Linked DNA regions of Homo sapiens: region 1 is reported to be linked to region 2. The links are microRNA targets in miRTarBase. Many come from high-throughput screens and were not tested one by one. Region 2 holds a microRNA gene; the other region holds the end of a gene's coding sequence.
What was found. The annotated mature microRNA hsa-miR-1915-3p reads CCCCAGGGCGACGCGGCGGG and lies in region 2 at 2,099-2,118, shown strand. An mRNA with a match to its seed (bases 2 to 7 or 8) in the 3' UTR can be bound and repressed. Matches are read on the target gene's strand: a 7mer-m8 pairs with bases 2 to 8, a 7mer-A1 pairs with bases 2 to 7 and ends in A, and an 8mer does both.

Region 1 (5,360 bases), not on the chromosome of region 2:
GACGCCCTGGGTAGGGAGGCCTCCCGGGGGTGCTGGCAAGGAGATGGCCTGCCCATGTTGGGTCTAGAAGCTTCCAAGGCCGGTTCAGGCAGCCGGGATCTCCTGGGGCTGGAGTGGGCATTGGAGCCAGAAGTGGGGCAAGAGTCACTGACCAGCCGGAAAGAGGGGCCTCAGTAGGGGGGCCAGGGATGGAGGGGGAGGGGACACGACCGGGAGGCCCAGAGCAGGGTGTGTACGGTGAAGACGGTGCTGAGGCAGCGAGGCAGGTGGGCGAGCAGGTGGCCAGCCTGGCAGGGTGGGATGGGGCAGCAGACACAGGGCTCAGGGCCCGTTCCACCAGGCCAAGAGGGTCCAGCCTATCTGGAACTGAACCCTAGTGCTCAGCCCCCTGGGGGTGGCCCTTGAGGATGGGCCCTGGGCCTGGGGGGGCCCCTGAGGACGCCCCCAGGAGGAATTAGGGGGGCAGTTGGGGCGGGGGCTCTGCCGGGGGCCCAGCTCTGTTCCTGAGCTGCAGTGGGGAAGCAGGGTGGTAGGGTTTCTGAGTGGGTCGGCTCCCCCACTTGGTGGCAGGTGTTATGTGGAGGGCTCTGGGAACACTGCACCTCCCCTGGGCGTACCTGCCCCAGCCTGGAGGCCCACAGCGGGACGCCAGCTGCCTCTGGGATGTGTTTGGGATATTTCAGGGACCCCTACCATGCTGTCTGTGCAGGGGCCTTCGGGGTAGGGGGTGGGTTCCGGGGGCCCAGGGCCGGGCCAGGCAAGTGACAGCTTCTCTTCTCCTTGTGACAGGAAGTGGGACCCATGGCAGCCGAGACCTCCCAGTCAACAGAATCATCGATGTGGATCTTGTAACTGGCTCGGCGCCCGGGCGGGATGGTGGCATAGCGGGGGCACAGGCTGGCCCTGGGAGGTCGCAGGCCAGTGGTGGGCCTCCTACATCAGACCTCCCTGGCTTGGGCCCCGTCCCGGGTGAGCCTGCTAAGCCCAAGACCAGCGCTCACCACGCCACCTTCGTCTGAGCTGCCCTGGCCTGGCCAACTCTCCTGTGGACATGTCGGGGTGGGGCAGCCCAGGTGGATTCTGTGGGCCTCAGGGGGGCCACCCTGGCCACCACACCCTCAGGAGCCCAGCCAGGAGGGCAGGGGGTGACCTCGCTGGAGGCACTGGCCCCGGACATTCGCCATGCTGGCCATGGGGCTCCCTGGCCCTGGCCTCCTGCTGCCCAATAAAGCATTTCTGAGGACCCAAGCGTCGGCCTGGTGCTGGGTGCTGGGGACACAGACTCCTCGTTCTCGGGGACTCCGAGCACATCCCCAGGAGGTCATGCAGGAAACAGAGGGGCCTGAGGAGGAGAAGTGCCCCAGGGTAAGGTCAAGGGGGCTTTGAGGAGAGGGAAGCTTGGCTCCTGGGGCCTGAGGGCCAGGACCAGATGGCAGAGACTGGCTCTCGCCGTCACGTGGGGACCCTGCCCCAGCCTTGTTTAGCAGGGTGGTCTGAGGGCCTTTCTGGGGAGGGACCATGTAAACTGCAACTGGACGGCAGAGGAAGTCTAGAAAGAGCCCTGGGCCTGTGCCAAGGCCCTGGGGCTAAGGAGGGTCTGATTACAGAAAGGGAACCAGGTGTGGCTGCAGGGGAGGCCGGGGCCTTGGGGGCTGGGTTGAGTCGGAAGAGGCAGGGCCATTCCCCAGGTTGCCTTGATGGAACCCCTAAAGCCAAGTACCCTCGGTACAGGGTGGTTGGTGAGCTCCTCAGACCATCCTAGAGGCCCGAGAGCACAGCCAGTCCCCTGGGGCTGTTCTAGAAGCTTCCAGGGAGTGGATGCACCCCACTTAGTGGTGCTCTAGGAAGGGGGCTGGGGGAGGGGTCGGAATGGAAGATGAAGCCCAGTGCCAGCTGTGTGTACCACCCACCACAAGCCCGCATCCATCCTGCTCCCAGCACCCACCATGCCTCCACATTCACCGTGCCCCCAGGGCCCACCATGACCTCCCCCCCAACCCCCAACCCCCCATTCACCGTGCCCCCAGCACCCACCATGCCTCCACATTCACCGTGCCCCCAGGGCCCACCATGACCTCCCCCCCAACCCCCAACCCCCCATTCACCGTGCCCCAGGGCCCACCATGACCTCCCCCCCAACCCCCAACCCCCCATTCACCGTGCCCCCAGGGCCCACCACGCCTCCATGTGCACTGTGCCCCCTGGGGCCCACGGTGTCAAGCTGGGTGGTCAGTGGGTGTCCATTCTCTCTCCCTCTGCACAGACAGGCAAATGGGGGGCAGAGAGAGGGGTTTTAGGGGATACAGGGAGGCAGCTTCAGCCCTCGCTGGTCTCCAGGCCACAGTGGTTCACTCACCCCTCCTCCCACCTCGGCAGCCCTGGGATGTCGCTGCTGACTCAGGAGGAACCCGAGGTGCCGTAGCGGCTGCTCCAATATTGCAGAAGAGGTTCCTCAGGCAGCTCTGCCCACAGCCCCAAGTCACGAATTCCGTGACTCCAGCTCCATCCCAGGCCCCAGGGTACCTGGCCCAGGGTTGTGCTGCCGCAGACTTGGCCTGTACCATCCAGGCGGCGGTGGGGAGCTGGGGTTGGAAAGGCTTCTTGGAGTGGACTCCTGGGTCTGTCTGGGAGACGGGGAGGAAGGGACACTCTGAACATCACCAGGGGCTGCTGGGGGGCCCTGGCCACCCCCAGAGTCAGAACAGGCAGGTGGGGCAGGATCTCAGGTCATCCTATGCTACACTCAGCCATTGCGTGGCCCCTCTCCTCCCTGTGCCTGGCCTTTTGGCCAGCCCTGGGGCCACCGAGAGGATGCAGCACCGAACCCTCCAGGAGCCCCCAGTGCTGCCGTCTGTGGGACAGGGACAATCCCATCCCCACTGCTACTGTCTGTGCTGTGCTGGGCACAGAGCTGGACACCTCCAAGGCCCAGCGCCCGTAGTGGCTCTCATCATGGACAATTCACAGGCAGATGGTGGCCAGCTCTGTGGCCTGCAGGGACTGGGAGCGGCGCCAGACCATCTAGGCCCCAACCTATCTGCATTATCCTGGAAGACTTCCTGGAGGAGGCTTCTAAGCTGAGGCCCAAGGACCATGTCAGGTCTAGGACTAGGACCAGTGCAGGCCGAGGCCAGAGAGACAGCTGGGCTTCCAGGTAGGGTCAAAGTGAGGTGGGCAGCAGGTGTGGGGGCCAGGGGACTCGGGGACTTCCTCTCCGGCTGGGCCCGCCTGACGTGGGAGGCAGCCAGGGTTAATCATTTCCACGAAGCCTTGACCCCACCTGCCTTGGCCGCTCTGCTCCCGCCTCCCACTGCCCCTCAGGCCAGCTCAGGAGCCATGGGGCGCTGGGCCTGGGTCCCCAGCCCCTGGCCCCCACCGGGGCTGGGCCCCTTCCTCCTCCTCCTCCTGCTGCTGCTGCTGCTGCCACGGGGGTTCCAGCCCCAGCCTGGCGGGGTGAGCACTGACCTTGTCGCAGTGCGACCAGAGGTTCCCAGTGGCTACTTGGGGTCCTTGGGAGGAGGCCAGAGGGAGGGTCGCCACAGAGCGTGGGGATTTGAGGGGGCGGGGGTCCGAGCAGGGGGCTTACGTTGAAAGCTGGCCCTCACAGGGCAGGTGGGTGCTGGACTGGCCTTGGAGGCTGGGGCCTGGGCTCACGGAGCCCCACCTGGGGGCTGTCATCCCTGTGCGGCCTGGCCTGGGCCCCTATGGGTCTGGGGGCTGCCCCCTCTCTCTGGACCTCTGTTGGGTCTGGATGCGTGAGGTTGGGGGAACCTCCCAGGGCCTCCTAGCTGCTCCCATCACCAAAAACTGACGTCAGGGTTTAAGCTTGGTGGGTAGCAGTGCCTGGGCCTGGGCAGTGACCCTGAGCAGGTGTTAACTAGGGGCCGAGGGCGGGGAAGGTGTCAGGGCCTGGCTGAGGCCTCAGGAATGTCGTGTGTCCTCCTGGAACCTGCTCCGAGATCTGGGGGCCCCAGTATGGAAACAGGCTCAGGGCTGTGACCTCCTGCCCGGCAGGACCTGAGTGTGAGGGTCTGTCCCACACTGACACCCTTTCTGCTCCTCCTAGAACCGTACGGAGTCCCCAGAACCTAATGCCACAGCGACCCCTGCGATCCCCACTATCCTGGTGACCTCTGTGACCTCTGAGACCCCAGCAACAAGTGCTCCAGAGGCAGAGGGACCCCAAAGTGGGGGGCTCCCGCCCCCGCCCAGGGCAGTTCCCTCGAGCAGTAGCCCCCAGGCCCAAGGTGGGTCAGGTGGGCCTGGGAGGAGGTGTCGTGCTTCACCTTAGGGCTGGGTGGGAGGAGCATGGCTGCGGCTGGAGGTCCTGAGGGGCTCGGGTGCCCCTCGAGGGAGCCCTGACCCTGCCACCCCCTCCCCACAGCACTCACCGAGGACGGGAGGCCCTGCAGGTTCCCCTTCCGCTACGGGGGCCGCATGCTGCATGCCTGCACTTCGGAGGGCAGTGCACACAGGAAGTGGTGGGTCCGGGCAGCCGGGGCACCCGAGCTGGGGTCACCTGCCCCACGCTGCCTGCTTTTCTGGGAGCCGGGCACACAGTAGGCGCTCACCACGCAGCAGGCGGACCCAGTGAACCCAGAGACCCTCCAGGGTGGTGGGGTGGGGTGGGGGGCCTCTGCCTGGGACCCCCATGCACGCAGGTGTCGCCCCCCAGGTGTGCCACAACTCACAACTACGACCGGGACAGGGCCTGGGGCTACTGTGTGGAGGCCACCCCGCCTCCAGGGGGCCCAGGTGGGTGCTGGGTTGGGTAGCCTGGGGCGGGCAGGGGGCACTGGGCCAGGCCAGAAGGGCCAAGGGGAGGATGGGGCGGACCCGGGCAGGGGTCCTGGCTGGAGGGGAGCAGAAGAGGAGCTCTGGGATTAACCCCGGTGGGTGCCACTTAGGGCCAGAGCCTCTCCCAGGTGGGACCTGCGTCTCATGGTGGCTGCGCGGCCATCGCTGGGGCCAAGGCGCCGCCTGGTGGTGAGGCCGGGCCCTGCAGCCACACAGGCGTGCCCCAGGCAGGGGACAGGTGGGCAGGGTCTGTGGGGTGCGGTGCCAGCCGCCCTGCTCACATGGGTCCTGGGACACATGGGAGGGGTCTGCTGCCTGACAGTGTGGGTGTCAGGCTTCCAGGAAGCCACGTGCACAGCTGGGCCAGTGGCCCAGGTGTTGAGTGGGGGACGCTGGGAGGAAGGGGAGGTCTGTGCCCCTCCCAGGGACCTTGCACCCCGAGGGGCGTAGAGAGGGCCCCTTTGCTCTCAGAGCCCCTCACTGGGGCCTGATGGACGCCTTAGCAAGCAGAGAATGTCACAGAGGGACCCTGAGCCTCCCAGTCCGCCCCTCACACCCCCTCC
Region 2 (5,360 bases):
CTGTTTGGAAGACTTCTCTCCAACGCGGGAGGGGAATTTGTTTTTTAATGTCAAAGGTTGTGTTAGCATGTACATTTAACCCAGGAAATTGTGAGAACTCTCTTCAACTCAAGTTGGAAAAAGGGAATGTGTTTGAGCAAAGTCTATTTTTAACAACAGAAAAGTGTGAGTTAAAGTGGACTGTGTGTTAGGTTGGGAATATAATCCATGGCAACTTCACTATACAAGTATTTTTGATTCTTCAGTGGAACTCATCCTCAAATTTTAGTAACTTGAAAAATTGAAGTCTTAAGTATTGTGTATTAAACTGAACCAAGAGATCACAGAAAGACAAAGCTATGGTAAAAGATGTTATAGTTATATTCTCATAGATTTAGTAGGAAAATCACAGCAAAGGAAATGCACCAGGAAGATATGAAATAGAGGAAATATGTTACAAATAATGAAATAGAAGGAGTTGCTGCACAATATAGCTTCACAATCTTATATTTTGAGGGGTAGGTTTTAATGAGAAGCCTCTGCATTGCATGGGAACTGGGAGTCGTAAGAATTATTTATGCAGTAAGAAGGAAAAAAATTAATTATTAGGAGCTCAATAATCACCAAATAAACTCTGAGCTTGGAGGTTAAAAATAGACGGCTATCTTCATGTTCAATTATACAGTATCAATTACTAATACAACTGATGTTTCAGTGTCTCAGCGAGAACAGATACCATCTTCTATGGAGATATCTTGGTATTAATTAATGACTGCTTTATTCTCATTATTCACAAGGAAAAATAGGGGTCGTGTCACATTAAAATTAAGATTATCTTAGTTTATCTGGGCTCTTAAACAAAGATCATTCAAAGTAATTATACTTTGAATTAATCGAGGTAGGCAATTTATCTCGTTATTTTTTTTTGTTCAAAGACAGGAAAATAAAGATCAGAAATAAGCAAAGTTTCATTTTGAAGATAGAAAGAACCAAACAAACATGTCTTGACTTTTGCAGTATTTCCCTTGCTAAAGGGGGAATGAGGGAACTGTAAAAGACGTGACTTTGCAAAGTCAAGTCCTTTTTAAAAGACTCGGATCGAAATTCTTGCTATGCAACAAGGATTCAAGTTTGATTAATTTTCTGCAAGCGACGTGACAGCGGTGTTTTAAAAGATTAATTAAAATTGAAGTGATACGGAGCAGGAATTCAACCTGCAGAGGCGTCCCTGGCGCCTTGGGGGGCTTTGTAAGCGAGTCCCAAGCCCGAACTGCGGGCTTTCCCGAGCCTGGGACGCAACTCCCCGTCTCCTGGAGAGGAACGCGGAATTTGGCAGGGCGCCCGCCTGGCCGCCTGGCATCCTGAGCTGGCCGCCAGCTCTCGGGGGGTGGGGACTGGGTGTGTCCTGGGGAACCCGCTGCCGAGAGAGCAGCTAGCGCAGCTCGCGACGAGCCATTGAGGACCAGGGTCGCGCCGAGAGGCCGGAGGGGGCTCCAGGCAGCCTGGAGCTGACGGCGCCGGGCTGCGTCCTCTTCACCTGGGGGTGGGGGGTGGGGGCACGTACTTTGTGACCAGGATGGTGCCGAGCCCCCTCTACGGCGGGAGCTTGCAGGGGTGCGGGGGTGTGACTGGCGCTCCGCGGACTCGTGTCCACAGTACAGAGGACATGTAGGGTTCGGCCGGGGCGCGGCTGCACCGGGGCCTGCCTCGCGGACCTGGACTCGGGACTCCGGGCGGCCCTGCCTGGTGCCATTGCCTCAGCCAAGTCTCCCACCTCTCTGCTCGGTTTCCCGCCCCACCTTTCCCCTACTACCGCATCCCTGTCCCCTCGCTTCCCTCCGCGATGTCTCCATCCGAGTAAGAAACGAAGCTGAACGCATTGGTAACTGTGCTCAAGAAGATGCAATCGCGGGAGCCCTCAGGGTGGCGCACGGCGGAGAGGCGACGCGGGTGGCGCTGCAGAGGGTACGGTGGGGGGCGGGGAAGAGGGGGGCGTTCGTGTGCAATTAGCCTCCCCAGGGCGCGGACCACGGTGTCCCCTTCTCTCCAGCTGGGGGTCTCGGGTCCTGGCGCTGAGAGGCCGCACCTTGCCTTGCTGCCCGGGCCGTGCACCCGTGGGCCCCAGGGCGACGCGGCGGGGGCGGCCCTAGCGACCTGCGGCGGCGCCGGGAAAGCCCTGCCTCTGCAGCGGGTCCCAGGGGTCGGGGCCTGGAAGGGTCCCTGGGAATGCTCCGCGCCGAGAAGGCTCTGTGGTTTCTCCTCCCCCACACGTCTCCCTCTCCTCCCCTCTTCCCGGGGACCTCAGAGGTGGCGGGGAAGTGGGAAGGGAGGCGGGCTTGCAGACCGTGCAGGCTGGGGAGCCGGAGCTCGGGAGTTGGGGGAGTCCGAGTGAGAACGGAAGCGCGTGGACGCGATGGAAGGGGCCGGGGGAAAGGGGGACGGCACTGGGGAGGGCTGGGGTGCGGGGCAGGCGACAGTCCCTTCCCCTCCGAGCGGCGCGGGGGACCTCTTCCCCGGGGAACCCCCACCCAGCCGTTCCCAACCTCGAGAACAAAGGGTCTGGGAAGCACGGTCGGGGTCGGGGAGCGGAGGTGGAGGGAGGCAGGAAGGCAGGCGGTGGGGGCAGGGGAGGGCGCCTCCCCACGTTTCCTCTCGCGGCCGAATGATGGAAAGCTCCCTCCAGCAAACGCCTCACTGAGGCCGCTTCTGAATCCGGGAGGGTTCGGGTTCGTTACCTAACGGCTGCACTTCGCTCCCTTCCTCCCCCAGCGTCCCCACCCCCTCCGGGGACCGGGGCCCCGGAGCTGCCAGGCCCGCTGCACGCGGCGGCGCGGGAGAAACCACGGGGCAGCAGCGCCCCCTGCAGGTGCCGGGCGCCTCCGCAGCCGCTGCGCGGACCCGACTCTTAAGGTGGCACCACCGGGTTCCCAGCCCGCGCGCAACCCGCAGCCCTGGCTCCATCCGCCGCACTTCTCCCTGTAGCGGCGGGCCTGACCGTCCGGAACGGCCGGAGTGTGCTGATGCCTGCTGCTATCTGCTTGATCCCTTCACCCTACCTCTCATCCAGGACTTCTTCCGCGGATGCGCAGCTAGCGATTTCGACAGGCGAGATTGAAAATTCCGGGCGAGTATATGAGGTTGAGTAAGTCCCGCTTCAGGGAGGAACGACCAGAATGACATTTCTTTAAGCCTAAATCAAACTTTTATTTTCGTTTATAAAAAGCAGAAGGCCAGCAGGAAAGGGTCGCGGAGGACTGGCACATCCACAACCGTAGGACTCTTGGATCCAAGTTTTTAGGCTGAGACTGGGCGGTCCGGGGTTCTCCTTCGGCGCTCACACCCCGCAAACTCGTGGGCAGTGCAGTGCTGGAGGCCGGGGGCAGTGGCGGACCCGCAGGGTAACCTTGTCTCGCGCACCTCCCGAGCCCCCAGCAGCCCACTCTCGTCCGAATGCTTTGTTTATTTGGTGACACCAGGGAACGTGGAGAAGAAGATCGAAGTTCAGTTTTTCTTTTTTCTTTATTTTAAATATTTTTCTTAACTAAATGGTATGTTTATGTGAACCCATCATCTCTTGGAATTAAGTGTCCTCAGCGAACTCCAGATTCCTAGGGGAAACCTACGTGCCCAGAGCAGGAAACGCACAAGTCAATTCAGGTTCCGGTGCCATCCGCAGTAAATTCCCTTCCTTTTGCTCCAAATTCCTCCTCTGCGTCCAGGAGAGGGACCCCCGGGACTCCCGCACACCCAGGACCGGGAGCGGCAGAGCAGAGGGCGGGTGCGAGGGCGCGAGGGAAGGGAGGCGGCCTGCGGACCTGGGGCGCGCAGTTTCCCGGCTCCGTGGGAACCTCCAACCCCGGGGCGCGCGGCCTAGGCTCCGCCCTGCCAGGCTTGGGGCCGAGCGGCCCACCTAGTGGGTCCTGACCTGGGGAAGCCGAGTCCGCGCGCGGGTCGGGCCGCGACGAGGGAAGCTCGCCTGGGCAAGTGCCGCGCGGGGTCAGACCCACCCCAGGGGTTGCAAACCGCAAGCGAAAGTCGAGAGGGGCTGGAGCTTTCCCTCTGATCCGTTTTACACTGTGAAAACCGCAGGCCTGTCGCCTAGGCGGCCACTTTTAAATTGGGAAGCAAATAGACGAAAAACCAAAACAAACGTACGAGCTGACTTTTCCCAGCTAAGTTTCCCCTCAATAAAAAGCCCGCTTTCTGGGAAAGACAGAAACTGATCCGCGCTCACGATTGCTTTCTTGGAGATTCTGGGGGCACTGGGGCGCGCAGGAGGCGCGGCGACAACCCCAGCGCGCATGGGGCAGCCTGGACTGTGCCCCTCTTACCAAGCTCCTTCCCAGGCTTCTCCGTGCTTCTCTCTCCACTGGGGTCCCGCCTCTCCACGGGTCACGCCGAGGCTATATGCTGCTTGCAAGGGGTCCGCGCTTTCTCGTTCGGCGGGAAAGGCACATGTTGGAGCTCGATGTTGGGGCTCAGGGTGTGGTTGATTTGTCTGCTGATCTGGGTTTCTTCCCAGCACCGGGCAGGAAGTGTAGGAGTTTGGGTCGCCAGTCCAGGGACTCGGGAAACTTCCAGGCCAACCAGAAGAAACACTTGCAGACACCTTTCGAATGTCACAGTTTTCCCCAGGGGAAAAAGCAGAAGTTGCTGGGCACATCACCCAGCACCCGGGCAAACTCTCCACTTACCTCGCGCCCTGCTAGGGGGTGTTGGGGGCCCTCCGGGAACCCCTAGATGAGCAAGCAAAGTTGCAAGAAGTGGGGTGGGGAACGCTCACCCGATAAACCATGCACCAAACTTAATCAGCCTGTAATGCTTACTCTAAATCTAGGCCCATCTAGGCCAGGTGGGCTGAGTCTTGGGATAGTGGGTGTCTCCTTCCTATGTTGATACATTAAGGATTCCATATGGACAATTATTTTTAGTCAAATTTGTGGTCCTGGAGATAGAAAGAGGAGAAGAAGAGAGAAGAAAGACAGAAGAGCTTTATTGTTCTTTTTTTTTTTTTTTTTTTTTTGAGATGGAGTCTCGCCCTGTTGTCCAGGCTGGAGTACAGTGGCGCCATCTTGGCTAACTGCAACCTCCACCTCCCCGGTTCAAGCAATTCTCCTACCTCAGCCTCCTGAGTAGCTGGGACTACAGGCAGCCGCCACCATGACCAGCTAATTTTTTTTTTTACTTTTAGTAGAGATGGGGTTTCACCATGTTAGCCAGGATGGTCTCGAACTCCTGACCTTGTGATCCGCCCACCTCAGCCTCCCTAGGTGCTGGGATTACAGGCGTGAGCAACCACCCGGCCTTATTGTTCTTATATTAAAACAAAAGAACCTAGAAAAAATTGCTTGGTTAAATTGTAGAGAGGAAGGGAGGGAAGG

Region 1: miRTarBase lists RGS12 as a target of hsa-miR-1915-3p. The part of its 3' UTR that is shown has no 7-base or 8-base seed match.

Annotation. Positions count from the first base shown.
Region 1 is chr4:3,438,666-3,444,025 of GRCh38, forward strand. It overlaps RGS12 (regulator of G protein signaling 12), which reads left to right. Exons shown (of 18, transcript NM_001394154.1): 18 at 790-1,248. The coding sequence ends at 1,019. It overlaps HGFAC (HGF activator), which reads left to right and starts at 3,303. Exons shown (of 14, transcript NM_001528.4): 1 at 3,303-3,453; 2 at 4,067-4,247; 3 at 4,385-4,481; 4 at 4,676-4,755. The coding sequence starts at 3,337. RefSeq lists a silencer at 4,833-4,882.
Region 2 is chr10:21,493,334-21,498,693 of GRCh38, reverse strand. It overlaps MIR1915 (microRNA 1915), which reads left to right and starts at 2,053; the gene lies at 2,053-2,132. It overlaps MIR1915HG (MIR1915 host gene), which reads left to right and starts at 1,434. Exons shown (of 2, transcript NR_160800.1): 1 at 1,434-1,944; 2 at 2,749-5,360. RefSeq lists silencers at 1,954-2,203, 2,414-2,463, 2,514-2,953, 3,767-3,866 and an enhancer at 3,378-4,171.